Regions from separate parts of the Homo sapiens genome. Here region 1 is linked to region 2. The links come from fine-mapping of genetic effects on gene expression. A gene starts in region 2. The other region holds a variant in brackets. All regions are shown on one strand. Distances are from middle to middle. Region 1 overlaps MAML3 (mastermind like transcriptional coactivator 3). Region 2 holds the start of MAML3 (mastermind like transcriptional coactivator 3).

Region 1 (16,649 bases), 280 kb before region 2:
TCTTTCATGGGCCAGGTGCGGCGGCTCACGCCTGTAATCCCAGCACTTTGGGAGGCCGAGGTGGGCAGATCACGAGGTCAAGAGATCAAGACCATCCTGGCCAACACGGTGAAACCTGTCTCTACTAAAAATACAAAAATTAGCTGGGTGTGGTGGTGTGTACCTGTAATTCCAGCTACTTGGGAGGCTGAGGCAGGAGAATTGCTTGAACCTGGGAGGCGGAGGTTGCAGTGAGCCAAGATCGCGTCACTGCCCTCCAGCCTGGCGACAGAGCGAGGCTCCGTCTCAAAAAAAAAAAAAAAAAAAAAAAAAGAAAAAGAAATCTTGAATGATAAATTCCTGATGACTAAAAGTCAACTATGTTCACTTACTCACTTCCTATAATTGCCATCAACATGTTTGGGAGCAAGAGGGACAATGTTACGCAGAATTATAGGACTCTCAAGGAATCTCAAATTCTCTGACTAGTAAGCTGATCAGAAAAAAAGTGAAATATGGATAAAAATACATTTAGGAAAATAGTAATGCAAACTTGCTTTTTTTTTTTTTTTTTTTTTTTTTTTTTTGCCACAAAGCTTTACTTGTTATGTTCTTCCCTCTTAAATCACTCAAACATTTTATTTATAAAACAAAGAATTTGTGAAATGGAGACAAATTATAATGTTGAAATATCATTAGAGTTTCCTTCAGTTCTACCAAGCATATTTGGGCAAAATTTAAAATATCCTTTCCTCTTTAATTCTGCAAATAGTGCAATTTCAAATACAGCAACTATCTTCTCTCTGTCTAGCTAAAAATTCAATGAAATACTTCACTTTATTTGTCTAAATAGTTATTCTTTTTCTCCTTGGAGAATCAAAATTAACCTTCAGTTGTGTTTTCTTTTAGGGGATACAATAAGGTGGAATGTTTCTTCTTGAATGGTTCAAGGGTCCAGTATCCATCATGAAAGAGGGGAAGGTGCAGAAATAAGATGGATCCAGGTGACCTTGGGGAGAAATCATTCCTAGTCCCTGCTTTTAGCTCCAAAACCATCCTTCTTTTGCCTTTCATATCCCTTGTCCCTGAATTACAGAGCCCTTTGACCTCTGTAAAAGGTTTTTTTTTTGTTTTTTTTTTTTTTCATTCTCTAACTAAACACAATAATAAATTAGGAGTCCCTATCTTTGTAGAAGTGGTCCAGGTTCTGGGCTTCTCCCTTCTTTTCATCAGCCTCTTTTTCCTCTTGTTTAACTCTTCCCAACTTATCCTCTTCCCCCCAAAATGAACTAGGCAGTCTTAATGACTCTGCCTTAATCTCCTCACCAAGTCTTTCTTCCTTTCTGCAGTTACGCCTTAGACATGCGCACTGAGGGGCTCCTGAGCTGGCCTCAGCCTTAGAGAGCCTGCTTGGGTCCTCCTCTGACCACATACATGTCTACCACCGCAAGTAGTCTGCAGAAGCAAGGCAAGAGCCTGTGTTCCCACCTCTAGACCATTCTTTGGATACCCGGAGCCCCAGATTCTCTGCTTAGAGAATTTCAAGTCTGTTTTCCCAGGTCCGTCTTCTGGAAGGTGGCCACACAGCTGTGTGCACCTCTAGGCCCAAAGAATGGCCAAGGGGCATGCAGGTGGACCTTGGAGGTATGGCCAGGAATGTCCCACAAATGTAGGAAGCTCCTGAGGTACAACACAGAGCCAGGGATGGAAAGGGAATTGGGTGGTCCAGGGAACCCAACCTGCAGAACCCCCAGGAGGCAGGGATTCTACATCAAACTGGCCTTCCCAGTGGCCACGAAGGTATACTTGTCAAGATCAGCTGATAGGACATATTGTACTTAATTGTTTGTTAGCTTGAAGTATAACAATTAAGGATGAGGCCTGTGGTACATCTGCACTCTTGCCTTGGGCTCCACAAATGTTAGGGAGGGACACGCTTGTCTCTCCTCACCCAGCGATTTTCCTGCAGATCTTCTCCAGTGCTAAATGCACATGGATTTAGGCAGTGAATACAGAACAAAGTTTGGACCTTCAGTGTGGCTGAGTGCCTATTCCTGGTAGCCAGGCCTTCTTTGCACCATCCCTCTGCCTCTTCAGACTCAGTCACCGACAGAAGGCAGTTAATTTGTAAACAAGGAAGATAAGCTGCTGTGTGTCCCCCAGAGAGGTTTTCACGGAGCTTGGGGGCTCCTGGGTCAGACCCCGCCCAAGATGGAATCTATTTGCGGCAGTAACCACAGACAGGTGACCTATTTTTTTCTTTATTGATTCTTCTCTCTTCCTCACTGTCTTGTTTCACCCCTCTTTTCTAAAGTATGTTTCAGACATAGAGGGAGAGGCTGTGATGGAAGTCAGCCAAGCGAAGACGAAGGGTGGGGGAGCAGTCGGCAATTCCAGTTTGACGCTAATGATTTGTGTACAATTCAAGGTCAGAGAATGATATGTGAGGCTTGTGCGCCCACCCACACAAGCATACACAATTTAGTACTTGATTATATCAGCATATAGCGCTAATACATCTCATGCTGCCTTGTTCACTTGCCTTTCCAATTAGAAAGAAACGCAGAGGGCAGGGACCACATGTTAAGCTTCTTTTGTTCCTCGCAGCACCCACCACCTTATTAGGCACATAATGGGCATTTGATAAATATGTTTTGTTAAAAGAGGCTTGCTTTAATGAAATAAAATGTGTTCTTGAAATGTGCTAAATAAAGTCAGTTTTTGTAAATGGAATCCGATTTTAATGATACTGGGAAAGTTGCAATGGGAATACTACAATAAATCCTTTTACAAAGCCAATAACCATTCCGTCTGGATTGTCATGTATTTTTTACCCTCTTGGACCTAAACCAGAAAATCTTAACCCAGGAATCATTGAATCCCCTGCAAATGTGTCCATGTTTGCTTTGGGAATGTGTATTTTTCTGGTGATATTGCTGTAGCTTTCATTGCATTCTCAAAGGGATGTGTTACTTCAAAAAGAAAAAAAAGTTAAAATCCATAGGCCTAGAGGGTGCCACAGAAATGAAGCTAAGGTTCTAGGAAAGTAATTTACCAGCTTTGGTAAGCAGAAAATGATAATCAGAGTTAACATTTGTTGAGCATCTGCTACATACCAAGCTCCTGACAGTCACCATATTTAATGTTGCCTGCAAGGTAGGCACTATCATCTCATTTGGCCAATGAGGAAACTGGAGAGGCTTGCCCCAGGCACATAGTTGTTAAACATCAAATGTGAGATCTGAACCAGAATCTGTTGATTCCAAATTTGGAAGTTTTCAATAAAATGGTTTCTGTTTCTCTGGTGCCCTACCTAAAATAATAATGATGACAATGAAAATAATAATTTAACTTTGAGAATATTATTATCACTATTTCACAGATGAGAAAACTGAAGTTAAGAAATATGTATGAAATTCAAGGATAGCTAATAACTTACTGAAGACCCTGCAGCTGGTAAGTGAAGGTCCATCCCCTGGCTGAGGCCACCGCCCCACACTGCCTTCACAGCCCCTGTGGGATGGCCTGGCTGCCCCGGGACTCTTAAACAAAAATCAGTGAACTGGGTCTTTGCTTCAGCATACCATAATTATTCTTCTGGAATTGAGTTCTCTTCCTTCACATTTCTCTAGAGAGAAGTCCAATCTGTCAAGCATTTATAAGGCACTTCTTTTGTACCTAGGGTTGTGTTAGGCACTGTGGGAAACAGGGAAACACATCTGTGGGTGTGAGTGTGTGTGTATGTATACATGTAAAACAGCCACACTTTTTAAACTAAAATCCTACATATTGTTTTAGACCATCTGATTACACTTAGGAGCTATTTAGGAAAATGGTGACTGTGCAATCAACTGTGCAAGTTGTATAAGAAACACTCCCTGTTCAATCTGCAAGGCATACTACCTACAAATTTAGCAGGAATTTAGAGACAGTACTGTTGATATTGGATATATATGGAAGTTTGGTCATAGGATCATTCAAGATTCATTTGACATTATGAATTCATTCCACTTAGCTACTCAGCTTGATACTACGAAAATAAATTAAAATGTGAAAGTGCTGTTAGCTCTTTGAAAGATCATAACATTGAAATTCAAGTTTAATATGTCACCTAAAAGGCAGTTTTACACGGAAGTTAAGCAAAGCCTGGGCCCTAAACTCAAAGGTCTCTGAGTTCAAATCTCTGCTCTGCCATTTACTAGATACGTGCTCTTAGAAAAAATTCACTTGATGTTTCTAGGCCGCGGTCTTCTCATATATAAATGGAGGTAATAATACCTTTATGACAAGCCTTGTGAAGATTAAATGAGGAAATGTGTGCAGAGTATGTGGAACAATGCTTGAAACATTGTCTTCACTTAAAAATTGTGGCATTTTGTCTTTATAACTTTGTGTCAAAAGAAATAGAATGTGAAAAAAAAATGAACTGGTAAAATTTCTCTCTAAAAATCAAAACAGGATAAAGGAGACAAATAAAATTCTCCTTCTCCACGAGTGATAGCAGTGGTATTAAAACACAATCCTTACAGTAAAAGCTCACAGGAAAAGAATTCTAAAATAAGTCTTTTCCTGTGCATAGGTTTATCCAAATTTCTTTCTCAATTTTATTTATTGCTGTTGACGTTTAATTGCTAAAATAATCTTAAGGGAGCCACAGAAATGGGTGGGGCACTCAAGAACTGTGCTATGGTCTTTCTGCATGTCAGCATTAGAACAGATTATTTCAATCCCATGTTTGTGTGGAAAGCATGCAAAGAGAAGATAGATTGACAAGCCTGATTGGTATGTTCCAATTCTTTTGCTTCCATAGCAATTTAGTATATGGAAGTCAAACTTCTTTAAAAATCCTAGTTTGCAGAAAAGAAAGGCTGAGTGCTGGCAGCAGAAGGTACATGATACTGGGGAACTCTACTCTTTACTCCAGTTGACAAGCAAGCAATTAGATCCATCGAGCTGCGGATCTATGTTCTCAAGGACCCAAGGAAGTCAGCTTTTGGAAGGCAATAAAATTTTTGTTTTTAATATGCAGTGTCCTTCAGTGAAAATGACAAGGAGGCTGAAGTAACTTTAGGATGCTGCAGACAAGAATTCTTTATCCAGAGATAAAGGTGAAAAGACCCAAGAAGCTGGATAAGAGCTAAATAAAAATGTCTTGCCAAAATGATGCTAGAAAGTACTAATTCTCAGACATTTGCAGAGTATTTCTCCATGATCAAAAGGCATGCAGACAAGAAATACACCAGCACCTATGTGCATGACCAACCAAATACCACCCCACCCCCGCGGCCAAACTCCAACAAAACACACGTAATATTCATTAAAAAAGAAACCTTTATCTGAAAGATGGGATGGAGGGAAGAGTGAGGGGGAAGAAATATAGAAAAGAATTGCAATTTGTTTTACCACCTATTACCTTCTAGGAGATAAAACGTTCTGAAGCTAACAGGCCACTGCCTTGGCAACAGTAGAAAAAAATATGAGATCAGAATGTTGGCTGTGATCTTGAGATGGCTTTCTTGTGCCCATTTCATTCGGTGAGTGTCAACATGTAGGCAAAATTGCATAAGGTTTAAGAGCTCAGGTTTGGATTCAAATAGGCTTTGCTTTGGTTCCTAGTTCTAGTGTTGACCATATGACCTTAAACAGACTACTTAACTTTACATGTCTGAATTTCAAGATCGTTTGAAGATTAAATGTTTCATGTCAAGGGCTTAGTACAGGTCTTGGCACATAAAGCGCTCCATGAATGGTCACTGTGAATATGTACCTTACTGTGGATCAGAGTTTCTCAGCTTCTGTACTATCGACATTTTGGGCTAGATAATGCTTTGTTGTGCAGAGACTGTCCTGTACATTGTAGGATATTTAGCAGCATCTCTGCTCTCTTACCCACTAGGTGCCAGTAGCAGCGTCAATTCCCCGTTCCCCTCACCCCACCCTACCCCTGGCCCCCAAGTTGTGACAACCAAAACTATCTCCAGATGTTGCCAAATGTCCAGTTGGTGATTGGGGAACAAAACATCTGAGGTTGAGAACCACTGCTTTAGATCAATCCAAGTTCTAGCAGATGAGAATAACTCCATTCTTCTTTTGATGTATTTATTAATATTTTTAAGCCTTGAAATGAAAAATTGCTTTTTAAGCATTAGAAAATGCATACTCTTCTTTTGAAAGCCTAGCAATAAATCCCATAACTATCAGGGTCTTCGTTTCCTCATCTTGAGCCTTATTTCAAGGCTCCCTCTGTTCTAAATTCTGACCTTGAAAACTCTATTCCTACCTCTTTCTTTTTTTGGACAGGGTCTCACTCTGTCGCCCAGGCTGGAGTTCAGTGGCGCAATCACAGCTAACTGTACCCTCGACCTCCTGGACTCAAGAGATCCTTCCACCTCAGCCTCCTAAGTAGCTGGGACCACACTTGACTAATTTTTGTATCTATATCTTTCATTTCACCAAAGATTTAAAACAATTTCTCACTATGAAGAAACTTATACAAGCAATATACATTCAACAGGAAAAATGAGGAAATTCAGATAAGCAAAAAAAGAAAGAAAGGAAAAGAAGTATCAGTTGTGTTTCCATTAGTTAGAACTACCTAGGGCTAACATGATGATGAGTGGGTTTTCAGATGTTTTTGGAATGCATGTTTGTGTGTACATACACAAATATACATGCAGTCACACAATACACACATTTTATTTCTTGTGTGCTTATCATTTTTTCATGGTATATCATTTTTTCATGGTCATTAGTTCTAGCTATCTCCAGACTTGATGCTAGACTATACATTTTTTCTCATGTATGACATTCCTCAAGAAGTGGTTCGACTCATATGTCTTTCTTTACCTACCACCTAGATAAGCCCCAAATTCACACTGTTACTCCTTTATTTCTCCACAGAAAAATAACTTTCATTACATGTACAAATGACAATTAAGCCAATTAGAGTAAACAACTTTTGGTCAATTCAGCTCTCACTTTGCCAGGAACCAATGGCCATCCTCAGTTTTTTTTAAGTATGGAGGTTTGGAAGTCAAATTTGACGCCTTTCTTCCTTTCCTGTCCCCACCCCTGCCCACAGTCACTTCCACAATCTCTTGCTTTTTCTTTGGACCTATTTCCAGGGTCACACGCAGTCAGGTCCTAATTATTTTGTTCCAGGTATGCTGTTTCCTAGCATCTCTCCTGCCAATCACTTTGATCGAGATAGTACTCTCCTCTTTTCAGAAACCTACAATGACTACCCATTGCTTCTTGTATCACAAGCTGAATCTCTCTAATGAGCTTTGAGGGGCTTCCACACTCCCCTGGGTCCTCCTCCCTGAGCTGTGTCTTCCTCAGGTTGCACTTTTTGTTCCTTATTAACCCTTCGCAACCCAGTTTCCCTACTCCCCTTTCTGATCAACAGTCCATTAAAAATAAGGTAAAACAATGCACAGTGCTGACGTCTTTTTAAAAAGAAGAAAACCCTAGGACACTAATACAATTATCCTTTTGCTTATGCTTCAGTTATCGGTTGTAACTACTTGTTACATTAATTGGGTGTATCTTTGTTACAGAGGATTAATAAATGTTTTATTTATTTATTTTAGTTTCAAAAACATGCCTTGAAATTTCACCAGATTGGGTGAAACGTGTTTACAATACTAGGAAGTGAACAGCAGGCACTAATTTTTTGTAGCAGTATTTCTCATCAAGGCACATGCATTTACCTAATCCAAAAGATGGCTAGCTTTCTCAGTTAAAAGGTATACAGAGAAATAACCCTTGCATTTGATCATTGTAACTTGGACAACATTTCACTCTATTGAATATAAACGGGAATCTGTATGCTGTTATTATTTTAAAAAAAATTTTTTAATCCAGCTTTTAGTAGAGGATAAACTTCTTAATGGCAAGGACCATGGCTTTTACTTCCTTTGTGAGGCTCACAATAATGGGAACACAGCTTCATGTGCAATTGGTCTTCAATAAATGTTGCTAGGTGATTCATATTTGAATGGGAAATGGAAAGAAAAGCCTGACGGACTTAAAGGATTTGTGTGCATGCATCTTGCTGTGAATAATACAAATGTGGAGAGAGATGACTAAGTGGACAGCATAGGGCATAGAGAGCTTTGGCCCCTGAAATACTCAGTAACAGGAAGTTACAGTGTGACTAACTGTAACCAGGTTGTGAAATGGAAAGCAGAGGAACTGGAGGATGTACT[G/C]GAAGAACTCAGGGGTGCACACAGAAGTGAACTGCAGCATCAAAGATGTAATGCCTTTCCGGGTGAGAACTTCAGAAGGAAGGACAGCACAGGGGACAAAGGAAGGGATAGAAATGATAAGTGTCTTAAAATGAAAAGGTGATGGAAAGAATTCTTAAGGCAGAAATAAAAATCCTATCAATAACAAGGTTGGGTTTAGAGTTAAAAAAATAATCACACGGCCGGGCACAGTGGTTCATGCCTGTAATCCCAGCACTTTGGGAGGCTGAGGTGGGTAGATCACCTAAGGTCAGGAGTTTGAGACCAGTCTGGCCAACATGGCAACACCCCGTCTATACTAAAAATATTAAAAAAATTAGCCGGGCATGGTGGTGGGCGCCTGTAATCCCAGCTACTCAGGAGACTGAGGCAGGAAGAATTGCTTGAACCCAGAAGGTAGACGTTGCAGTGAGCTGAGATTGTGCCACTGCACTCCAGCCTGGGAGACAGAGTGAGACTCCATCTCAAAAAATAAATAAATAAATAAATAAATAAATAATCACGCAGATATTTTGTTTCCTACTTTAAATAAAAGCAAGGCTTCACATTTGACCACAGAATGTTGTATTGCTTCTCTGCTATGTGGCACAGCTTTGATATCAGGTCCAGGACTGCTAAGTGAAAGAAAAGAAATTTCTGGTATGTTTGGAGCCTATGATTTCATCCCTCCTCTCACTCCAGCACATCTGATCTATGTATCCTCAAAAATGGAGCTGCTCACCTTTGCCAGCTCAGTTCTTCCCATCCTAAGCTTTCCTGAGCCAGTACCACTTAAGCATGTTATAAAATGCCAAAGCCATTCATGGTCATTATGGTGTCCACAAATATGTTCACAAATTCTTGACACTCCCTTCAGAAGGGAGAACCTAATCCCTCTCTCCTGGAGTGTGGCTGGACTTAAATTATTTTGCTTCTAATGAATGAAACAATGAAGAAACGAAGGTGTGTGATTTCGATAGTATGTCATGAAATGAACTGTGGCTTCCTCCTTGGTCTCTCTTGAAGCTGACTCAGGGGAAGCCAGCTGCCATGTCATGAGAAAACTTAAGCAGCCCTGTGGGGAGGTCCATGTGGTGAGGAACTGAGGCCTCCAGTCAGCAGCCATGGGAGGGAGCCACATATGAAGTAGAGTCTCCAGCCCCAGTCAAGCCTTCAGATGACTGCAGCCCACTTGACAGCTTCACGGTAGCCTTATGGAAGAGCCTGAGCCATAACCACCCAGCTAAGCTGCTCCTGCATTCCCTTGAAAACCATGTAAGATAATAAATGTTTGTTGTTTGAAGTGGCTATGTTTTGAGCATAAGTTGTTACACAGCAATAGATAACTAATATGGTAATCTTTCCAATAGAGCTCTTCTTTACTTTGGAGTTAAGTTTTTAAGTTTTATTAAAAGGTCTTTTCATTATTTTGGAATATGTGTTTACCTGCATTTAATATGTAAATGGATCAGATGTTATAAAATGTTCAGGTAAATTAAATCCCACCTTCTTTTTTAGCTTCTGATTTTAACAAAGAGAAATGATTTTTCTCATCTACTGAGGTACCAGAAACAATGAGGGTACTGTAAGGCCTCAAAGAGTCTAACAGACCTCTAGAGTTAGGAGTGGGGAGTGGCTAGATTATGTCTTGAGATGTTTTCCTCATTTAAAATCATTTAACATAAACAAAAAAGATGGCATTTTAATATTGTACTTTAAAATATGAAAAATAAATAGTTTTTATTTTAAATAGAGGTAAATTATGCAGGAGGAACAATCTTGTCAGAGCCAAGATTGATTTTTTTTAAAAAAATCACCAGTGAAACTTGCTAACAGTTGGCTTTTAAAAGAGAACAGTAATACACTTTTACCATTTTGTTTACAGTCCCTGTCTATAAAATTTTCACATATATATGATAATATATTTCTTCCAGAATCTTTCTATCTTTGTATGCACAATGCCTAGACACCACAGGCACATAAAATATGTTGAATGAATGAATGAATGAATGAAACTGGCTTAAAGGAAAACTGAAGAAACTTACACTCTCCTAGAGGATTAAAAAAGTACAAATCACACGATATGATTAATGTTTTTAATTTTAAAAACACAGTACATCCTATGGGTCTGATACTATTTTAAATGCTTAACGTAAACTAATACACAGAGTCATCCTAATATCTCTATTGATTATCATCCCCTATCTTTCCTTTTTTTTTTTTTTTTGAGATGGAGTCTTGCCCTGTCGCCCAGGCTGGAGTGCAGTGGCGCGATCTCAGCTCACTGCAAGCTCCTCCTCCTGGGTTCACGCCATTCTCCTGCCACAGCCTCCCGAGTAGCTGGAATTACAGGCGTCTGCCACCACGCCCGGCTAATTTTTTGTATTTTTAGTAAAGATGGGGTTTCACCATGTTAGCCAGGATGGTCTCAATCTCCTGACCTCGTGATCTGCCCACCTCGGCCTCCCAAAGTGCTGGGATTACAGGCGTGAGCCATCATGCCCAGCTGATCATCCCCATCTTCTAGATGAAAACCTAAAGTACAAACAGGTTATATAACCCGCCCAAGGTCCTGCAAGTTCTGAAGTGGTAAAGTCAGGATTTGAAGATCTGTTGTGGCTTCAGAGCTGACTCCCGACCTCTACACTCTGCCACCCTCCCTACGAAGGCAGCTCCTTATATGATCCTACCTGATGTCATACCTAGGCAGTTCTCAAGTCAGGAGAAGGTGGAAGTGGTGGGAGCGCTGCAAAAACGGAGAGAACTGTGACTGCTTTGCAGTGTTTTGGGGAATTGTGTTTATTCACCAGTTTCTCTCACTAGACCGCCAATTTAACACTCTGCCAACTGTCCAATTATTCATGTTCACGTGGAGCTAAGTGGGTTCTTCTCCAGCTGCACACCTTTCTTTCTCAACATAATTAATGAGGCTCATCAAAACCCTAGAAAACAAGCCCAGCGCACCAGCCACTCTCATTGACATGTTAATAGGGGGTCAGGTGCTCCTGACCTCACAGCAGGATGTTTATATGGCCCCAGGGCTGCTCACAAATGTTATATGTTGACTACAGGGTGTCATGAATAAGGGCGTTCCTTTCCCAGTAAGCAGCTGCACTACACACAAATGGCCATGGAAATCTCTGAAGGCAGTGAGCCACACAGATCAGGTGAATTCTAACAGCATGGGCACAAAGCCGGCTGGGTTGGCTTATCCAGAGCCTGGCCAGGCGGAGGGCACTGGAAAGCACTAATTCATTCCATCCAGTGTAGGATTACATAGTTTTTAAAAGGCAATGTAAAGAGTAAGAGACTCACAAACAGCAAAAAAAAAAAAAAAAAAAAAAAAAAAATCACCTCTGGTCTTGCCTATTACTTTTCTGATCACAGAACTGATTTTTGGTGTTTTTCTAACTCGCGCTGTTCAACACAGTAGCCACTAGCCACATGTGGCTGTTGAACACTTGAAATGTGGCTGGTCCGAATTGGGCTGTGCTATAAGCATAACAGGCACATCAGATTTCAAACACTTGGTATGAAAAAAAAAGTATGTAAAATATGCCATTAGTAATCTTTATATTGATTACATGTTAACATAATCATATTTTAAATATACTGGGTTAAATAAAAATATATTAAGATGAATGTCACCAGCTGCTTTTTACCTTTTGCAACATGGCCAATAGAAATTTAAAAATCACATAGTTTGCACTGGTGGCTTGCATTCTATTTTGATTGGACAGTGCTGCTCTAGAGTTTGGAAACTCTAAACCTGTCACTGCTTTGAGAGGGATGCAAGGGGCAAGTGTGTTTCCAAGTCTTGTCTCTGGACTTTTTCTGCCACACTAATGAAACTCTTACCAATGGGTGATATTGAAACTAACACTATCTACCAGGAAGGCTGCAATACACTCAGATGTGAATCGCCTCCTGTTCCAGGGCCTTCAATCACCCTTCTATTCGCAGGCTTTGAAGTACAGGCTCTGACTGGCCCCAGCAAGAGCACACTTTGGCACTCTGTGGCACATGTAACTCATTCTTATTGCACTGATCTAAAACCTAGCTCTCACTCACAGTGGCTTTTAGGGAATGATCATGTGGACCCAGGCTGCCACCGATGGCTGTGCAGTTTGTGCCTGGCACAACAGTGTCCAGCAGAGGGTACACAAGGGGTTGCCATCACACCTGGGGTGCCTGCAGGCTGGGGCTGCAGTTTATCGGCTCAGAGGCGTTGCCTGAAGTGGACTGCACTCTACACCCAAGGCAATCTTTTTTCTTGCACCCCTGACTAACTTCCACATGGCACTGAAAGTACTCCTGGCCTAGCAAGCCCATTAAAACATCCTTTGTATGAATTGGCCAGAGCCCAGTGCAGAAAAGCAGGCCATATAAATTCCCAAACATCTCAGATCTAAGAAGAGCATTTAGAGAATGCAGATATGTTTATAAAACCTCCTGTAGGAAATCATGATATTAATAAATGGGAGTTATTAGTTTGGATATAATTTGGGGTCACTATTTACTGCTGACTAAATAAAACATATAGGTAAATTGCATAATCTCATGTGTCATATTAACTAATCATGACAATGTATTGGAAATCTAACTAACATGAAAGATATTTTGATTCTCTATGTACTAGATCCGCTGCAAACCATTTGTTGTCATAAAGAGGATGAATTCTAGAGAATCTTGCCCAGGAACCAAAATATAATAGAGTATCTTTGTATAGGAAAGCAGCATTTCCCCCCACCCCCCGAAGAGTATTATAACCTCTAGAAGAGCCCAGAGTTGTATGAATAGTTAATGAACGATGACATAATATACTTTAAAGCTTGGAACTGTTTAAAGTGTGCTCCAAAAGACTATCTTTAGAAAGGACTCTCTTCAAATAATTGCTAAGATATGATGAAGTAAATCTTTATAATAAAAATATTAAGCAAAAGGAACATATGATAGTCTGTTATTACTCTAAGAAAAACAACCACTTTCATAGTGATATGAATTTACTAAAAAATAAACACCTAAAAACAAAAAGCCCAACCATAAAGCACAGAGTAGCTATTTGTGGCTCAATGCTGCGAAAACTTTTTAAAAAATAGCCATGAGCTTGCTTCACACCTTTTGCAGAGTGTGGGACAAGTAGTACCTCAGAAAACTGGAAATATAAAACAGAAGAATAAGATAAATAATAGCAAAGTAAATTACGTGTTTAAATTGCTTTTAAATATACTGTAAATAAGATTTGATTATTTACATGTATACATGTGATCATCTTTCAGAAACTATTATACCATCCCAATATTTAATCTTATGATCATAAATATTTGATTCATTTCCTTTTATCTTGTCATTTATTCAAGCACCAAGTTCTGTTACTTCTTCCCTCTAAATGCCACTATGGCCATTGTTCTCTTAAATTTTAACTGCTGTGTCCAGATAGACATTCTTACTGTCTCACACTCAAAATAGTAGAAAGTCCTCTAAATGTTCTCCCATTCAAATTTTGCCTCGCTATTCCGCACCGGAACCCTTCCCTCCAGCCTGGCTATAATCTAAGTTGGCCACGGAAGGAATAATGCTTTGCCGCCAGCAGGATGCCTTTCTACCCACCCTCTATCCCGCCAACTCCTACTCATTCTTGGTCTATCTCGAAGCTCAGTTGCCCTCTGGAGGCTGCTCTTGTCTTCTCCAGGCTGCACTGACCCTTGCTGTTCTCCCTGCCCTGAATCCTGAATGTAAAATTTAGTAAGGTAGCACTGACTACTCGCTCCCTTGTATCGCCCTTATCTCCCTGACCAGACTGCACATTGCTGGACACTCTAGGTTACACTGTTTTGGTATCTTGCTTTGGTCCATAATATCATGACTTTGAGGAGTGAATATACACAGGGAGGATATGATTGGCCATTTTACAATTTTCTACACCTGTGTCGAACCCTTAGGCTAGTAGGCTCCTCTTGGGAAAAAATAAAGCTGGGCCTACTCTCTTACCTGTGAGTGCACTGGGTAGGGGCCTAGGGTGTAGCAGAATGCACCTTGAAAGGAAGGGAATCTAAGAGTCTGGAAATGGAATGAAGTTGGGCATCCGGCTGAGGCAACATCTCCCTGAAGCTCAGGAGCACCTGGGAAAGTTGCTTGTCTGCCATCCTTGATGTGATTGAGCATCAGAACACGGAACACAGGGTTGTGGCTGACCTCTGTGCCTGAGAGCAGTCTTGCTCTGAGGAGAACAGCCCGAAAGAGGCCCTACATAAGCCTTGTGTCGCCTTTAATGTGTGTAGTATCCATTCCTTTGCGGTCTGTCTTTCTATAGATCTTAAGGAAAGCAGCCTGGCACTATAAGACTGTGCCCTTAAATCCTGAGACAGAAAAATGAATAACAAACCCTCTCTTGGAGGAAAAATCCCACTCTTCACCACATTGGGACTGGGGAGAAGGGACCACTGGAGGATAGACTACTTTGTCCTATTCAGAGAATCAACAGGACAATAACTGCCATATTTAAACATATACAAATATTTAGCAATGAAATAAACACAGGCTGCTTGAACTGCAGTCTCAGTGTTATGTTGCTTTTTGTTTGTTTGTTTTGCGCCCAGCCCGCAGTGTTATCTTATGTACTATTTCTCCATTTGAAAATGGTAGTGGTGGCCGGGTGCAGTGGCTCACGCTTGTAATTCCAGCAATCTGGGAAGCTGAGGCAGATGAGTCACTTGAGGTCAGGAGTTCGAGACCAGCCTGGCCAACATGGTGAAACCCCATGTCTACTAAAAATACAAAAATTAGTGGGGCATCATGGTGTATGCCTTTAATCTCAGCTACTCAGGAGGATGAGGCTCAAGAATCGCTTGAGCCCAGGAGGCAGAGGTTGCAGTGAGCCAAGATTGTGCCACTGCACTCCAGCCTGGGTGACAAAGTGAGGCTCTGACTGAAAAAAAAAAAAAAAGAAAAGAAAAGAAAAGAAAAAAGAGAAAGAAAATGGTGGTGGTGGTAGTGGTTGGGAGAAAATGGTCGTGGTGGTGATAGTGGTTGGGAGATGTGGGCGGGGGGGTGGGGATGTTCATTAAAATGCACATTCCCAGGCCTCATCCCAGATCTACAGATTCTGGGCCTTTGGCAGTGGAATCTGATTGATTACCTGCATCTTGAATGCTTTCCCCAGGTGATTCTTAGGCCCATAAATGTTTCAGAACCACTGTTCGATGGGTTATCAGCTCTCTCAGCAAACAAGAATATTCTCATCCCCTAAAACCTTTAAGGAGTATTTTCATAGGAGTGCAATTAAAACCTCTTTCGGGCTGGGTGTGGTGGCTCACGCCTGTAATCCCAGCACTTTGGGAGGCTGAGGTGGGTGGATTGCCTGAGCTTAGGAGTTTGTGACCAGCCTGGGCAACACAGTGAAACCCCATCTCTACTAAAATACAAAAAATTGGCTGGGCGTGGCGGCCTGTGCCTGTAGTCCCAGCTACTCAAGAGGCTGAGGCAGGAGAATTGCTTGAACCCAGAAGACAGAGGTTGCAGTGAGCCCAGATCGTGCCACTGCACTCCAGCCTGGGTGACAGAGTGAGACTCCATCTCAAAATTGAAAAAAAAAAAACAAACAAAAAACCTCTTTCTTCTAGAAAGCTCATTCCTTTCCTAAAATGTTTCCTTTTCTGCTGCTTTCTCTTAGCCTCATATTTCTAAAACTCTGACAGAATATCAGTTTCCAAAATATGCCAGGATGTACACGGAAATGAGGTATTTTACCCATCAGCAGGGGCACTGCACTTAAGATCTGGATTTTGGGGCCCTTCTGCTTGCTGGTTTCCCCTCAGCAGGGAAGGCCTGGATTCAGTCAGTGAGGAGTGTTCTGTCCATATTCCACCTTGCCCCTGAGTGGCCAGGTACTACTGGCTTAGTCAGAGTCATGAACCTAAACTGTTTTCATAGTCCTTGAAGTAAGTCAGTATTTCAAGATTCTGAAAACTACTCAATAGTTATAATCACAAAATCTTCTTCCAAAATAGCATGATGATCATGTTGACACTGTTGTCTTTTTCAATACATGTATTTGACATGTGTAAATTTTGTGTTAAGAGAGCACTTTTGGTTTTGTGAAACCCACTCTATTGGAGCCAAAAGTGTTAGAAACAATAATGTGAATTCTGCTGTAAAATTATAAATTTCAATTTGGACAATATTCGATATTCAACAGAAAAGTGTTGAAAATCACTGAAGGAGCCTCTGGTAGAATGAACACCCACATTAATCTTGGCTTCCTCCGATGCTCCAGTACAATCACAATACAGGAATAAAAATGACATAAATATTTAAGAACAAAGAAGATGGGAGATGGCAATAGGAATTGAGGGGTGTCAACAAAATTTTGGGAGATGAAAATCAGCTGGCTGAGTGGTAAACGACTTAGCAGCTTAGAGAAAGCTGAATCTAATCCTGCAG
Region 2 (16,649 bases):
TTCTCCAAGTTCAGAATAGGTTACTAAAAGCATGCTTTACTTCTGTAAACTCCCAAAGCACCAGGATATAGTCTGTTTACCCACACCTGCTCTCACATGTCTCTCTCCTCTGATATCCATTCTAGGTGATGCCTCCAAAATGCTCATCCTTTTTTGCCTCTCCTACCTTAACACTAGTTCAAGCCCTTTACTGGGTACCCAGCCTTTTAGATTCACTCTCAATCGCTGAGCTACTTTCAGCATCTAACAAACAAAGAAAAATAACCAACCAGAGTGAGAATAAAGGGCACAAGCAGAGCATGTCTTTCAGAGCTGTGCAATCCTTTTGAGTCACAGTTGCAACCCAGGTTGAATCTACACAAATAGACTTAGAGCACTTCGGCCTTTTCCTTTGAAGAGATAGAAGCCCCTGTCCAGACGTGCTCGGGAGGTGGAGAAAGATGTTGGGAAAGGGAAGGAGAGATACACAGCAGTGTAACCTAATAACCTCCTTTACCCATGGAAGTAAAACACTGTTAACAGTTGAGGGGTGGAGGGTCCATAAACATGAAATGATACACAACCAGATTCTACTCAACAGGATGGCAATAAAAGGAGTTAGGAAAATTCTGGAAGTTGGTAGTTAAAAACTAAATATTTCACTTAAGTTTTCTACAGTTGTTAAGCCATTGCAAAAGGGGGATGAATGTTAGTTATTAGCATTTTAAAAGGTTCTACTTCAGCATAAAGGTCATTTCCAATCAATGGGAGGTCCAATATAATTAAAAGGTGCCTAAATTATTATTGAGGAATCACTTTCTTTATGTCAGAGGAAGTACTGCAAGCCTTTTGAGATTTTTTTGTTTTGTTTTGTTTTGTTTTGTTTTGTTTGAGACAGGGTCTCACTCTGTCACCAGGCTGGAGTGTAGTGGCACGATCTCAGCTCACTGCAAACTCTGCCACCCTGGTTCAAGCAATTCTCCTGCCTCAGCCTCCCAAGTAGCTGGGATTATAGACATGCGCCACCACGCCCGGCTAATTTTTGTATTTTTCGTAGAGATGGGGTTTCACCATGTTGGTCAGGCTTGTCTCGAACTCCTGACCTCGTGATCTGCCCGCTCGGCCTCCCAAAGTGCTGGGATTACATGCATGAGCCACTGCGCCTGGCCTTTTTTTTCTTTTTTCTTTTTTTTTTTTGAGAAGGATTTTTACTCTTGTTGCCCAGGCTGGAGTGCAATGGCACAATCTCGGCTCACTGCAACCTCCACCTCCCAGGTTCAAGCAATTCCCCTGCCTCAGCCTCTCAAGTAGCTGGGATTACAGGCGTGTGCCACCATCCCCAGCTAATTTTTGTATTTTAGTAGAGACGGGGTTTCACCATGTTGGTCAGGCTGGTCTCAAACTCCTGATCTCAACTGATCTACCGGTCTCGGCCTCCCATAGTGCTGGGATTACAGGTATGAGCCACTGTGCCCGGCCACCTTTTGAGATTTTTTAATTAAATTTCTCCAAGAATAGTATACACAGCTTGCCATAGTAGTAACTTCCTGCTCCTATCCATGCGTGCATGCGGCCCTCAGAGAACGCCGAATGCTGTGCTTCTGTCCCAAATGGAGAAAGGAACTCAAAAACCCCTCCACTGTTTAACAGATGGAATTGCCAAGTAGACTTTAAAAAAAGTGTGCTCCTTCTCTGATCCACTGAATGGAACCCCATGATCTTTAAGTATTTATTATACAGCAGGCCCTCAACTCCATTTTCTGCATAATTTTATCTAACCCTATTTCTTTTGTTCTTTAAACTTTCTTAGATTTAAACAACAAAAAAATTAAACTAAATTAATCAGTTCTTGGTGACAGCTGATTTTTCAGAAGCTACATTTCCAAGTCACAAAACTAAATAGTGAATTTTTGGAATCTGTCTGGAAAGCAGGCTGTATTTGTAATAAAAATTTAATTTGTGGGGGGATACTGTAATTTTGGAGCAGTCATCTGCAAATTAACTTATTTGGCAGATACCAATGTCAAATTGGTATGAAACAACAGGAAAGTAAAGCATATTATAATATTTTCCTTAAAAATCATGGAAAGGTGATATAACACCCTGAAGCCTGAAACTGCTGTCGTTAGTGCCAATGACTATACTGATTTTTAAAAATCTGGCCGGGTGCGGTGGCTCACACCTGTAATCCCAGCACTTTGGGAGGCTGAGGTGGGCAGATCACAAGGTCAGGAGATCGACACCATCCTGGCCAACATGGTGAAACCTGTCTCTACTAAAATACAAAAAATTAGCCAGGCGTGGTGGTACATGCCTGTAGTCTCAGCTACTCGGGAGGCTGAGGCAGGGGAATCACTTGAACCCAGGAGGCAGAGCTTGCAGTGAGCCGAGATTGCATCACTTCACTCCAGCCTGACGGCAGAGTGAGACTCCATCTCAAAAAAAAAAAAAAAAAAAAAAAAAATTGTTACGCCCTTGAATCTGGCTAGAATAATACTGAAAATCTACAGAGAATATATATTGTCAAAGTCTTGGATGCAAGAGCGTGATTTAGTATCTTAACTTCCATGAAACACTATGGACAATGTACCAATGCTGCTGAATGAATGAATGAAATTAGAAACTCAGTCTTTATTATTTGTGCTAAGTAAGAATAAAGGCAAATCCATACTAAATCCAAAATGGTATTGTATCTGATTGTTTCATTAGTTCTGAGAGTCAGGAGCACCAAAATTAAATTTTTTCTCTTCTTATTGCTTCTTCCCACTCTTTGATAACGGTGTTAAAGATCACTGAAAAGACCAAAAGGTTGGCAGCAGGTGGGGGGAAGGAAAAACAAAGCAAGCAGCCAGGGGATCTGAAAACTCAACCATCAGCCTTTGAATAATAGAGTGAAAAATGTAAAGCTATTTGGGAGACTTAAAAGGTAGACACTATGAAAATCTTGACAGTGAGTTTTAAATATGTTCCTCTTTATAAGAGTCTGATGTCTGTTTGATTGATTTCACAGTTCTCCAAGATGGGTAATGTGGAAAAAGACAACAGAATTTAGCCTTTTTAAGCTCAAGAGTATAAGACAGGACTGTTACTTAACAAACAGGGAACAGTAATCACACAAGTACTTCAAATATATCCAAGAATTACTATTTAACATGCAAAACAGGTTCTTACACTGGATCCCTTCTATGACACTCACACCAGGGTGAGTGAGTGAATGAGTGAATGTGTGTGTGTGTGTGTGCACGTGCATGCATGAGAGAGAGAAATGCCTTATATTCCTATCTCAACCAAATGGGCAGGAAAACTTCTTTAACAACAGTTGGCCATTAGTCTCACAGCGATATTCAGAAAATAACTCCATATAACTCTATTTTACTATTAAATTCCTCATCCTTCTTCTTCCAGAGATGTCAGTAAACTATGTACAGGACTGCCCATTTTTCTCCTATCAGGTGGCAGAAATCCTAAAAAAGATTCTAAAGTTTGCCCTTATAATTCTAATGAGACAGGATAGAAAGTATCAAGCATACTAGCTTCCTGAAAACTTGGCTTTCCCTGGGAAGGAACTCAGCTTGAAGAGCATTTTGTAGATTATGATTAATGCTTAACTAACTCTGCTTCTACTTTTCTGACCACTGGCTGCCCAGTACTAAATAAAATATACCACAACCAAATAACATAATAGAATTAAACATGTATTGGAGCTTAAAAAAATGCTTCTTGAGAATTAAAAGAAAAAAATACATATGAAGGACAGAAAAAACAAAATTTCAAAAAGTTTTCCACAAACTTAAGGCATGCTGTGTTGGGCAATGGAAAGCTTTCCGAAAGACAGTCTGTCCTGTTACCCATGCTAGCGGCAGAACAGGATAAGCCAAAGAAAAGGTTATCATAGGGAAGATGTAGAAATAGCTTGGTAATACGAGCTTGCCAAAAAAATTGATACAGAGCCAGTAATTTACCTTCAACAGGGTAAGAAATGGGAAGCCAGATTAACGTATAAGGACATTCAGCAGTGGACTAATATGTTGACATTTCCTGAATCTATTCCAGGAATGGATGGAACATTTTGGATGGGTTGTAGTTGTCTCCAATACTCGGTAATAACGCATTTATTATTAAATGCATGTTATGAATTTTTTGTGATAAGCTCTTCAGAACAGGGGTCACATAGATTTATGCAGTCTGTAAGCTGTATATAAATTAAGCACACTCTGAAAGTTACGATGGTGCTAATACAGTGAAGAGGTCATGAAAATAATATGGTCTTATCTAAGTCAACTAAGACTATCACCATTTTAAAATTTTGAAAACTGTGCACTGTCATGCTTTTTGATGTGCCTGCTCAGCTTGAAAATGTACTTGTCAATTGAAATTTGCCTTAAAATTTTAACCAGGACCTCAGTTCCAAATACAGCAAATAAACAATGCCCCCTTTTGTTACCACAAATAATTAAAAGCCATCTTTTCAACTGAGGCTCTCTGATAGGTGAAGTCAATAATTTTCACCAAGTCTTTGAGGGGAAGAAAAAAACTATGTCAATAAAGTGGTGGTGGTTGGGATGGGATCATTTGACTACATGTTCAGAACGGACCTAATACCTGAGGTAGTGCAGCTTCAAACCCAGGTCTGTGCCACCTGCTCTATCAACAGGGCTGGTGAGGACTCACACAGAACCCAGCCCCCTCTGTGGCAGCCTGGAGCCAAGGAAAATTTTTTACCCCTCACCCACTCTGCTTTTTGTTTGCTATTTTTTTGTTGTTGTTTTTCATGCCCATTCTTGTAAATGTGTAAGATAGGAAAACAAATCAAAAGAGGCAAAGCCCTCATTAGACTGCCTTCTTAATCCAAGCGAGGCAGAAAGATAATTAATCGATATTTAGTACTTCGGACATATTGGTCCTTAGAAAGTAAACAATACCAATGAAACAGTAAAGAATCCTATTCATCTTTATTTTTATATCACCGTTATTATTATTTGGTTGTGGGTGATCATTGTTTTTCTTTAGGGCTTTCCAAATAGAGCGCCCAATCTGAGAACTACATTTAATTGTTCTGTGCCTCACTGGAGTACAACTATAATCCTGCAGTCAATTCAAGAAAATGAAGAGCAACGTTTTCTTTACAACCTCTATTTTTGAGATTTTACCTCAATACAGACTGTTAAAATACTCTCAGAAGCCAAGGTTAACTTTTAAACTAATTATTTTAAAAGGAAATATAACTTGTAGAGCATGTTTCTTTCTTTTTTTTTTTTTTTTTTGGTACACAGAATTTACTTGCAACTCTGCTTAAGAGTTAAGGCTTACATTACATTCATCACACTCATCACACATACCAGTGAGAGATGCATGTGAAACAGCTGAAGCTAAAATACACTCCTATTCTGTACACAGCCCTGGCATTTATTAGTGCGTAAGTCTAATCAACAGGCTAAATCATTGTCATAAAATGACAGAAAATTTTATTTTCACGCAGTCATCTTTCAAGTCTATTTGTTGCTAATTTGCTAAACTGGGATTCACTATGAAATCTACAGCTGATGTCTCTGTCTATTGAAGCAAGCATTATCTTTCTATTTTCAAAAGTAAGCTGTGGCTTGGGCTTGCTGTCTTCTTCCCAGTAAGGTCAGGAGGCTGGGCTTGCTTCCACCTGCGAGTGTATCACAAACCAGGCGCGCGCACCCGAGCCCTCCCTCCACCAGGGCGGAAACCAGAGAACACAACCCAAACACCGAAAGTTTCTGGTCGCAAACTCTACTCATCTTGCCGTGTCCAGAGACCCGGCACTGGGAACGGCACTGGCTTTTGTTCCAGGGTCCCCCAGCTGGCGAGGTAAACGCCACAGCAGTCCTTGATCCCCAAAGGTTGTGAGAGATTCTGTGGCACGGGAATTTTGGAGCCTCCCGAAAGGAGCCCATTTCTCCGCAATCCATGCGCGTGGGGTGTACAAATACACGAAAAGAGGACGCGGGGTGGGCAGGCATGAAACCTTCAGTGCCTCTTAAATTCTCAGTCTCAGGTTCACAAAGTGAATCTCCTCCTCCGTGGAAGGGCGCTAGGGGGGCGGGGGCTGGGAGAGAAATAGGTTGGAGAAAGGGACCGGAGCTACAGTCGAGATGCGGGACCGGCCCCGCCTCCGGCTACAATCAGAAAAACTACAGTGTGTCAGTGGTTTTCGGTTTCCTGTTTGTAAAGCGAGAACCTCCCCCGACTCGAACTGTCGTTCTTCCTCAAAACCAACCGAGACGGCCCCTTCTTCGCGCTCGGGGCAGGCTCAGCCGCAGGGGGAGCGGAGAGGAGGGACGCGGGGGCATGGGGGGCGCGGCGGGGCGGGGACAGCCGCGATGAAGCGGGCAGGGCCACGGGGCGCAGCACCCCTCCCAGCCCAGCGGCCCCGGGGTCTGAGCTGGGCCGCGAGGCGGACAAAGCGCCTCCCGCTCCCTCCCCCACGGCCACGTTCCAAAAGGGAGGAAGAAGGCGGGCAAGAGTGGCTGGAGGAGGAGGAAGGGAGGAGGAAGGGGAGGGGGAGGAGGAAGAGGAGGAGGGAAGGTGCTGCCGGCGGGACTGGGCAGGATCGCGCCGACCTGGGAGGGGAGGGAGGAGGGGTTGAGCGCCCCCGGAGAACTGGGAGGAGGGAAGGATTCTTGAAGCCCAAGATAAACAAATTGTTCCTCTTCACGTGCGGGGTGGGGGGACGTGGGGAGCGAGCACTGCGGCGTCGCCTCCCCTCCCCCAAGCCGACTCTTTGTCACCGAGCGCCGGCCCGAGCCCCCGGCGAAAGCCCACGGCAGCACTGGCACCACCCCGGCGCCGGGGACTCACAGACCGGGAACGTGTGCGATTTCTAAACCGCACGACGGGAGGGCCGCCCCTGCCGGGCTCTGCGCCGCCGATCGCTGGGCGGTCTGCACGGGAAACAGGCGAAGGCGCGCGGCCCCGGCACGCTCCAGGATTCCCGTCGCCTGGCCCACCCAGCACCCGGGCGGCGCGGTGCGGGGGGGGGGGGCACACACCTTTCCCAAGCTTCCGGCCTCCCCTCACCCAGAAAGGAAAGCAAAAGAACCGGAGAGGGGAGATAAGAGAAAGGATTCTAGCCTCCGGCTTGGGGGGTGGGAACTGCCCCTTCCTCCTGGAGAAGTTAAGCCATTGGCTGCTCATCCTACCTCGAACCCGCCCACCCAGCCATTTAAGCCTCTTTTACCTCCCTGCTACCTTCCATTGCTCTGGGCTTATTAAGCAGGCCCCCAAAGTTGGCGGGCAGCGGGGCAGGGGGCGCCAAGCGGAGAAAGACTCCGTGCACGCAAGTTTAAAAGGAAAAAAGGAAAGAATCCCAAGCGAAGTTGTGTGGTGGGGCCTCTTGGCGCAAACCCTGGGTATTGCTTTCCCCTCCCGCCCCCTCCAGGCCGCTCCCCTCTTAACCCTCCCAGCCGCTCCACCTGCCGGGCTAGCCCCGAGTCGCGAGCAAAGAGCGGAGCGCACCCGCGCCCCGCATCCGCGCGCGCTCCCGCGAGCACCCCCGCGCGCAGCCACCCTCGCTCGTTTCTCACCCACTTCAAAGTTCATTCACAAAACTCTCAGACTTTCTCAGCCCAAAGGGGGTGAGCTGGGGAGAGGAGGCGAGAGGCTCTCCTTCCCCGCTTCCCCCCTAGGGGTTGAGGGCCTGGTGCCCGCCCAGAACCTGCGACAGCATCAATATTTCCACGCACCCGGCGGATGTGCTGAGAGGGGTGGGCGTAGGGGGACGGGTCTGGGGAGGCGAGGCGGCGCGGCTAGAGGTGGGGTGGGGAGCGGCGAAGAGGAGGAGCAAGGTTTCAACTCAGGGGTTCACTCTTTCAAATCGGTATCTTAAGAAAGGGAAGGGGGGAAACTTTTCCAGCACCTCACTCCGACGCTCCTCTAGGCTCCCTCCGCCCCTCGCAGTCGTGACTGGCTTCTCCCCTCTCGCCCCCTCCTCCCCAAATCTGACAACCCTGACAGATTAACAGGTAGCGACGACGGCAGCTTTTTCCCTAAGAAAAGTTGACGTTAACCCTTAGGCTTCAGCCCACCTCACCCACCGTGCAAATCAGACCCTTGTACCCCCATGTAAGAAGCTCCACGCGCCCCCCACCACCACCACCACCCCCAACGCGCGCCGCAAGCCCGCTGCCCGTGCGCCCTCACCATGATCAGCGTGTGGTTCCTCTGCTCCGCCGAGGCAGCCTCCGCATCTTGCTGGGGTTTGCTCGGGTGCTGCTGTTTGCCGGTGCCGGCGCCCGATTTCTTGGCCCTCTGCTCCAGGGTCCGCTGGTAGAGGCTCACGGTGTCCCGGCGCTCCAGCTCCAGCTGCTCCACCTGAGCCTGCTGGTACCTGTTCTCGCAGTTGACGTGGTGCCGACGGCAGCCCTCGATGCGCTGGCGGAGCCGCTCCACCACGGTGCTGTGCTTGGGAACGGCCGCCGAACCGCCGCCGGGGCCCCCGGAGCCGCCGCATCCACCGGCTGCCGGGTGATTGCTACTCGGAGCAGCGGGAGTACTATTGGGAGTATTATTCACACCGATCCCGGCCCCGCCGAGGCTGCTGTTCAGGCTACTGTTGATGCAAATACTACTGCCATTCGCGGCAGCAGCGGGGGCTGCGAAATCCCCCATCCTGCTCCCCGGGCACACTATTTTGGAAGAACTTTTTTTATCCACCCCCCTATCAGCCTCCTCCTTGGGTCCAAGGATTAAAATAGTTTAAGTGGAACGCGGGGGAGACGCAAGCACATGGATGGAAACGGCGATCCCGACGGGGCGAAAAAAACGGGGGGGGAGATTTTGGGGTGGTTTTTGTTTCCTTTTTTTAAACTGTAAAAGCTCAAGGGGAAGAAAAGGGGGGAACGTTATCGGAATACCATCAGACACCTATCAACAAAAAGAATCACAACAAACTGAGCCAGCAGCAAATCGGGTTGCAACTCAAGGGGAGATCCGCTCCTTGCTTGCCTTCTTTTTATAATCCATTATTTTCTAATAAATTCCAGGAGATTTCCGGTGGTTGGCAAGCATTTTCTCCCTACATACCGAAAAACACACCCCATGTACACACACAAGCATATGCCTCCAGTGCGGACACGCGCGACACACACTCACTCCACACCGCATCGGAAAACGGCAAGCTTGCTTATTGCATTTTCCTTCCACAAAAAAGTTTTGGTGTTTATGCCGCCCCGTGTTCTCAAAGTACTTTGGCTGCTCAGTTGCATTTCACAGGAACCTAGATATCGAATCCTCGGGCTGGGGGAAGTAAACACATGGACAGTCCGAGGCGACTGCAAAAGTAGATCGGTGAAGTCCTTTGCAAAACGCCGCGCAGAGAGCAGCACCTAACGCTCGGCTGGGCTGCCGCTGCCGCCGCTGCTCCTGCCACCATCACAATGATCAACTGCTCGCCGCCGCCGCCGCCGCCGCCTCCTCCTCCTCCTCTCGCTCCTCCACCTCCTCCTCCTCCTCCATGCCAGCGGAGTGATATCAGGACGCGCGAGCTCAGTAAACACGGCAGCGGCGGCGGCTGGAGGCCGTGAGACAGGCCCGCGGACACGGCGCAAAACCCGGCCCGGACTCTCACCCGGCAGGAGCGGGCGCGGCACGCACCAGCACCCGGCTCCCGTCTCCGTCGCCTCGGCGCCCGGCGCCCCTCCTACGCCCCCAACCACACTACCGCCCCGCCGAGAAGCCCAGAGCCGTCGGCGACGGAGAGAAGAAAGATTCTGGGGGGATCTCAGAAATAAATCAACTTTTGACCTGTGTGTGTGCGTGAGAGCGTGTGTGAGTGTGTGTGTCTGTGTATGCGCGCGCGCGTGCGCGGGGACGCGCCTGGTAGGGTTTCCTTATTCCAAGGAAAGTATCAAGCGATCCCAAGTTGTTGTTATACATTTATGCATTATATTGCAGAACTGTGCATGACCAGGCAGAAACATTGAAGCTTTACAGCAGTTGTCTGTCATCCCTATCCATGTGGAAAGAAAAAGGCAAATGAGTGACTTGTTTTTAAAACCCAGGTAATAAGTCTGCGCTAGTAACAGCGCTACTTACGGACACTTGTTCCAAGTCTAGGCCAGACTGAACACACAAATACCAAATTCTAAATAAATAGAAATAGGCATCAAAAATGTGTAATATTTAACTCACTGTACATAATGATTGTTGTTACTAAGTCAATTATTGTTTTACTTACCCTTGGAAAAAAATAAAGCAAGCAGGGACTTGGAGGTGAGACTAACAGTACATTTAAACAGACTGTTTTGAACACTAGGTGCTAATGACAGCAGTAATTAAGGTCCTTCGTAAATCAAGTGGAAAGATTGCAGATTTCATAGACTAGAACTATAGAAAAAACACAGCATTTCACAGTTTGTCATGACCAAAACAAAAACAAGCAAAAATAACAGGCCTACTTTATTGCTGGATATATTTCTTTCCATTTCAATGAATTCACAATAAGTACAATTAAAATGGACTAGCAACTGCAGAAATCAATCTAAACTTTCCATTTTATTAAAGCACATTATCTTTCCCGATATTATCTAAAAACAAAAATAACAACTAAGGATCAAATATTCTTGAATATGGACTTAAACCATTGCATATACATATTTTTAAAAATTAAGATGGAGAAATTATTATTTCTCTAATAATCAGTAAACTATAAATCTTGATTGTGAGATGTTAATTATAAGTCATTTTGTATTATTTCAATAAATCTTAAGAATTAGTTTTTAGGGTAAAAATACACCCCAGTTTTCTAAAATAGCCAGGAATAAAAGAACTTTGGATCTTATGCATTAGTCATGAGATCTGATTTAAACCATCTTCATTTCTTGGCATTGCAGATTAGCACAGGATGCTATTTCTAACCTCATAATGTCAGCGATAAGAAGCTATATTTTTCTTCAATTAATCAGTTCTATATAGTGAACGATATTTTTAATATTCACTGGATATATGGCAAAATGGGCAGCAAAATATTTAATACGGTGTGAGGCTACTTCTAAGCAGTAAAACCAACTTAAGAGAGTGTATATTTCATTGAAGTTGCCACACTTTTTCTGAAGGCTATTTAGTTAATATACAAATTTCTGTATCAAACTGCCCTTCTTCAAGTCTCAGTCAGAAAATTTAACTGGACTACGTCTGTAGCAAAAGAGCCCGTTCAGATTCTGAAAATATGTAGAGAATTTTAAGAAATTAGAAAAAGAGGTAGCAAAGTGGCCTTTATCTTTTTCACATATTCACTAAATAATATCTCTATTAACTCAGGAAACACATGGCTTCGCCACAGAGGGGAAGCTATGACTCTGCATTCGCTTTGCTCTCTCTTCACCGTAGTTTAATTCTTTTTTTTTTTTTTTTTTTTGAGACAGAGTCTTGCTCTGTTGCCTAGGCTGGAGTGCAGTGGCGCCATCTTGGCTCACTGCAACCTCTGCCTCCCGGGTTCCAGTGATTCTCCTGGCTGAGCCTCCTGGGTAGCTGGGATTACAGGTGCACGCCACCACACCTGGCTAATTTTTGTATTTTTAGTAGAGACGGGGTTTCACCATGTTGGCCAGGCTGGTCTGAAACTACTGACCTCAGATGATCCACCTGCCTTGGCCTCCCAAAGTGCTGGGATTACAGGTGTGAGCCACTGCGCCTGGCCACACTGTAGTTTAATTGTTATCCCTCCTCCTTCACTTGCCTCCATCACCCACAAAAGACTGCAGTTTGATTTACAGAGGCAACAAATTTGAGGGTCTTAAGCACTGGGTCTTTAGTTTTTGAGACTTGGGTTCTCATTTTAGCTTTTTCCTGTGACTCAGAATTTAATTATTCATTGAGAGTTTCTCATTCTGGGGAAAAAATGACAACAATAGCAGCACCATGTATTCCCTTCAAGCTGTTTACCTCTCCTACCATGAAGGGAAACCAAAAAGACACAAGAATTTGCATCCTTCCCTTTGGGGAACCAGCAGGTGGGACAGCACACTTTGTGGTTTTACCACAGAGTTCCCCAATGACAAATGAAGCTCTTCTTGCACAACCACAGTATACTTTGCTGCCTGATTTTAGTGCATGAATGGGCTATACCCAAAAGAAAAACTGTTACATGTGTACACACAAACAAGCGCACACACAGGCACCCGTCTTTCATCTCTCCAAAATGGGAGTGGCAGCCACAAGCTCCATGCCCCAGATGTGGGGAAAGGAAGAACTGTGAAACTGTGTGATGGCCAGAGGGGAAGAATCTTTGAGAAACCGACCTGTGCAGGACTCTGCTGTGACGTACCAGAGGTCAGAAACCCCATTCTCATTGTGCAGGAAGATTAGAAGAAAGAAGCAAGAAGCAAGCAAGGCTTGCATCTTGAGCAACATATGCCAGTCACCCTGAATTAGAGATGTTGATCTACTCCAGTGACCTTAGAAGAAACAGAGACCTTTATGCTGGCTACTTCCAGATCCCATGATATGGTCCTGCAAGGTTTCCAGCTTTGTTGGTCACCTTCCTAAAGAACTCCTTGAAAGTCATAGAGAAATCCAAGTTCTGGAGAAGCAATTTTAGTCCCTTCTCACAGCACAACACTGACAGCATGACCATCTTTGTCTTTTCTGTGAGCCTGCTACAAGGCAAAACTTCAGGATGAAAGCGGTAGACACAGCATCAATGCTATTGTTCTTGAATGACAAAAAATAATAATAATAATAATTGAGATGCCATAGCAGTGATGAGAAAGAAATTACTATGACTGCATCCCCAACTGTGATGATATCTCTCTGGATGCCAAGGAAAGAAGGGCTTGATGAATAAGTAGCTACACCAGGTTATCCTGTTGTCCTGGCTCTGAGCCAAAGTTGGCAGTTCTGAGGAGTTCAACCAGGTTCCATTTCCTTTACACCAAGTCTGTGTCATCTTCCTATATTCACCTGAGAAGGCCTAGTGTCCCAGTGACAAGAAAGAGACCTTTGTGCGGAAATTCCAGTCTATGTGCCCCCTCTGTTTCCCTCTTACTATGGATCAATAGATCTGCTTTCATAAAAGAGTATCTTGTGGCTAAAGAAGAATAGGAACCCTCTGCTGCCCACATATGAGCAACCAAACCTTTATATCTTTCCAAAGTGGGGCCCAGGCACTCCTAAATTACTAGCAGCCGGGGGATGTGCCCTCAGCTGTCTAGCAATAGGTATCATTTCAATAATTCCATGAATATATTTATGGCCTTCTGTGTGCCACACACTGTGGTAGGCACTGGGTGAACAGCATAATAACAGTGTATAGAACACAGTCCCAACCTCAATGACGGCCAACTAGAATCAGGGCAGTATATGCCATAATAGAATTAATATGGAGTGGGTGTAGGAACAAGCAAAAGAGTGCATGCTTGGAGGAGCTAAGAATCCGTCTCCAAAAAAATCCAGTGGTAGTTCCTTCTCACACGATTGTGAGTGTGAAAGAGTGTGATGAGAAATGAGATGGAGGCTGGGGAGACAAGCAGGACCTGGATTGTTCAAGGCCATCCAGTTTAGACTATATCCTTGGGACAATGGCTGCCATTAAAAGGACTTAAGCTGATTTACACTGTTTACTTTGGCAATGCAGTGGATGTATTATTATAGCGTTTTCAGAAGTGTGTCTGAAAAACTTGGTTCCGTAAGATGCTTTACCAGAAAGGCTTCTGAGCTAAGTAAGTTTAGGACATGTTCTGTACTGCATCTCTCCAAAGAGTTATTACCACATTGAAGGTCACAAGAAATCTTGAAGCAAAGCATGTTTAACTTTGTTTAACCTAACATTGCCAAAATCCTGTTATGTCCCACAGAATAGAACACACTCTAGAAAGCTCTGTGGTATAGGAGAGAGTGAAAACTGAAGGCAGTTCTAAATCCACTTAAATTTACAACAATTGCCTGGGCACGTAGCCTAAGTCAACGACCACAAGGCCCTTGCCATCTGCTCTACCAGAATCACTAGTCCAGATCTCCCGGGCCTTCCTAACCTCAGCTGGGTGTGTGAATTCTGACCTTTAAATATTGAGGAAGTAGCAACACAAAGGCAAAATCCCAAAAGGGTGAATTTGACTAGCCTTTTTCAGCATTAGTACTTTGAGTATGTTATATTAATATCTATCCCTGTGTAATAAAACCTCCTTATTAGGAGAAAAGGTTGGCCTTATTTAACTGAAAAGATTATGTAATATCTTTAAAGCTATAGATTTTCATTACATTTGAAGCATGCACTCTGTCTAGCCTAACAAAACTGGCCTCTTGGAGCTATTTTAATGATCTCCTTTTACCTATGAAGCAATTGCATATAGGTGACATGCCTCATGAACTAGGGGTGTTTCAAAAATTTGCTTTCTTAAGTATTTAAATACCTCTCGCAAGATTCTGTGTATGTTGTTAATTCTCATTTTTTATTAAGAAGGGGTTTACTAAGTCCTAGACCATGTCATAAATTTTGAGAGGAGTATGAATTAATAGGATTTATTTTCTTATTCATGTATTTTAATATGTATATAATAGTTTCATGGTTATTAGGGGAAAGGTTATCTAAAGTCCATGGCAGAGAAATTTTTTAAAAGTCTCTCATTCTGTTTCATATATATTTCTACTCTCACGGTTAAATAATATAATAAGGCATCTGACTTGAACAATGTCTGGCTTTCATATACAAAGTTGAAGACTTCTGAAAGAAAATATTTATGAATTTTTAAATTTATTGAAGGCCCATAATCAGCTAAACTGTTAACGTTAGAAATAATTAATTGTGATGGCCAACAGTCATTGAAAATTTGCTCTATTCCAGGTTCTATTGTTATCCTCTATTTCACTGATATAGAAACTGAGGCACAGAAAACTTAAAGAACTTTCCCCAAACCACACAGCTTAAAAATGGCAGAGACCCAATTTGAACCAAGCTATGGAAGAAATATGTAACCAAGTTCCTAAGGTTCCTTCTCATTTTAAGATTCTACCTTTTTACAAAACTAAAAGTACTGTGTTTTGGCTGGGGGCGATGGCTCACTCCTGTAATCCCAGCACCTTGGAAGGCCGAGGCAGGCGGATCACCTGAGGTCTGGAGTTCAAGACCAGCCTGGCCAACATGGTGAAACCCGGTCTCTACTAAAAATATAAAAATTAGCCAGCCATGGTGACGCACGCCTGTAATCCCAGCTACTCGAGAGACTGGGGCAGGAGAATCACTTGAGCCTGGGAGGCGGAAGTTGCAGTGACCCAAGATGGCGCCACTATACTCCAGCCTGGGTGACAGAGTGAGACTACGTCTCAAAAAAATAAAATAAAATAAAATAAAATTACTGTGTTTTACCCAGATCTCATTTTAACAGAAGTTTGTTGCTGCAGAGGGGTTATAGCTGAGGAGTCATTTTTGTAGAAAGCTGTCTCTGGCCATGCTTCCCTCAGCCCCCATTCTGAGCTAGCCACCCTCTCAGTGCTCTGAGAATAGTGGGCATTTTTCTGTCTTTGTACTTATATTATTACACTCTATTATAACTGTTTATTTACCTGTCTATGTCTCACTTGTGTTTTATTGGTCTTGGGACCTAACACAGGGCTGTCCATGACAGAGCTCTGTAACTGTGTGTGGGGGACACGTAAATGAAAGAGGGAATGGTAGCACACAATTTACCAAAGTTACAAAATCAGAAAGGGACTTGTGTGTGGCCAGTGCCAGGCAGTAGCCCCCGAGGAGAGCAGCACTGCACTGCCATCCTATAGAAACTGTTTGAATGCAATATAAGAAAATCATAGTGCGATATGATTTATATTTCAAAATGCTGTGTCTCTGGGTTTGGGGTATTCTATAAATTGACTTGGAGAGGTGCAGAGGTGGAAGAGAGGCGGAGGAGAACCAGCCTCTTAGATCCCCTCACCCCAACTGCACTCTGCTGTCTGTCAGGTGGGGAAGGGGCTCATATTTGTTGTACATCACAGCCAGGTGTCGGCTACTGGCCAACGCATTTTCCATATATTAACCAATGTGATATTCCCAACAACCCTAGGATGTATGGAAACCAGAGCTGGCCCAAATGTGCTTTTAACACACATGAATTAAACTATGCCTTCTGGTTTGTTAAATAAAAAAGAAAAAGAAAAAAGTGTGTATATATATATATATATATTTTTTTTTAAGCCTTAAAACTATTTTTACTGTGTGTGTGCGTGTGTGTGTGTGTGTGTGTGTGTGTGTTTTCTCTCTTTTTTTTTCTTTTATTTTAAGTTCTGGGATACATGTGCAGAACGTGCAGGTTTGTTACACATGTGCCATGGTGGTTTGCTGCACCTATCAACCCATCATCTAGGTTTTAAGCACCGCATTCATTAGGTACTTGTCCTAATGTTCTCCTTCCCCTTGCCCCCCACCCGCCGACAGGCCGCGGTGTGTGATGTTCCCCTCCTTGTGTCCATGTGTTCTCATTGTTCAACTCCCACCTATGAGTGAGAATGTGTGGTGTTTGGTTTTCTGTTCCTGTGTTAGTTTGCTGAGAATGATGGTTTCCAGCTTCATCCATGTCCCTACAAAGGACATGAACTCATTCTTTTTATGGCTGCATAGTATTCCATGGTGTATACGTGCCACATTTTCTTTATCCAGTCTATCATTGATGGGCATTTGGGTTGGTTCCAAGTCTTTGCTATTGTAAATAGTGCTG

What was found. PIP is the estimated chance that this variant, and not a neighbour inherited with it, causes the effect.
Region 1: its variant is fine-mapped to the expression of MAML3 in whole blood (INTERVAL, PIP above 0.99).

The regions. Positions count from the first base shown.
Region 1 is chr4:139,864,388-139,881,036 of GRCh38, forward strand. All of the region lies in intron 2 of MAML3 (mastermind like transcriptional coactivator 3), which reads right to left. Among named protein-coding and RNA genes, the nearest start is that of MGST2, 210 kb to the left of the region's middle. RefSeq lists an enhancer at 10,795-11,518. The variant G/C (reference allele first, on the strand shown) is at 8,190.
Region 2 is chr4:140,144,715-140,161,363 of GRCh38, forward strand. MAML3 (mastermind like transcriptional coactivator 3) reads right to left here and starts at 9,470. Exons shown (of 5, transcript NM_018717.5): 1 at 8,146-9,470. The coding sequence starts at 8,613. RefSeq lists enhancers at 5,344-6,188, 6,189-7,031.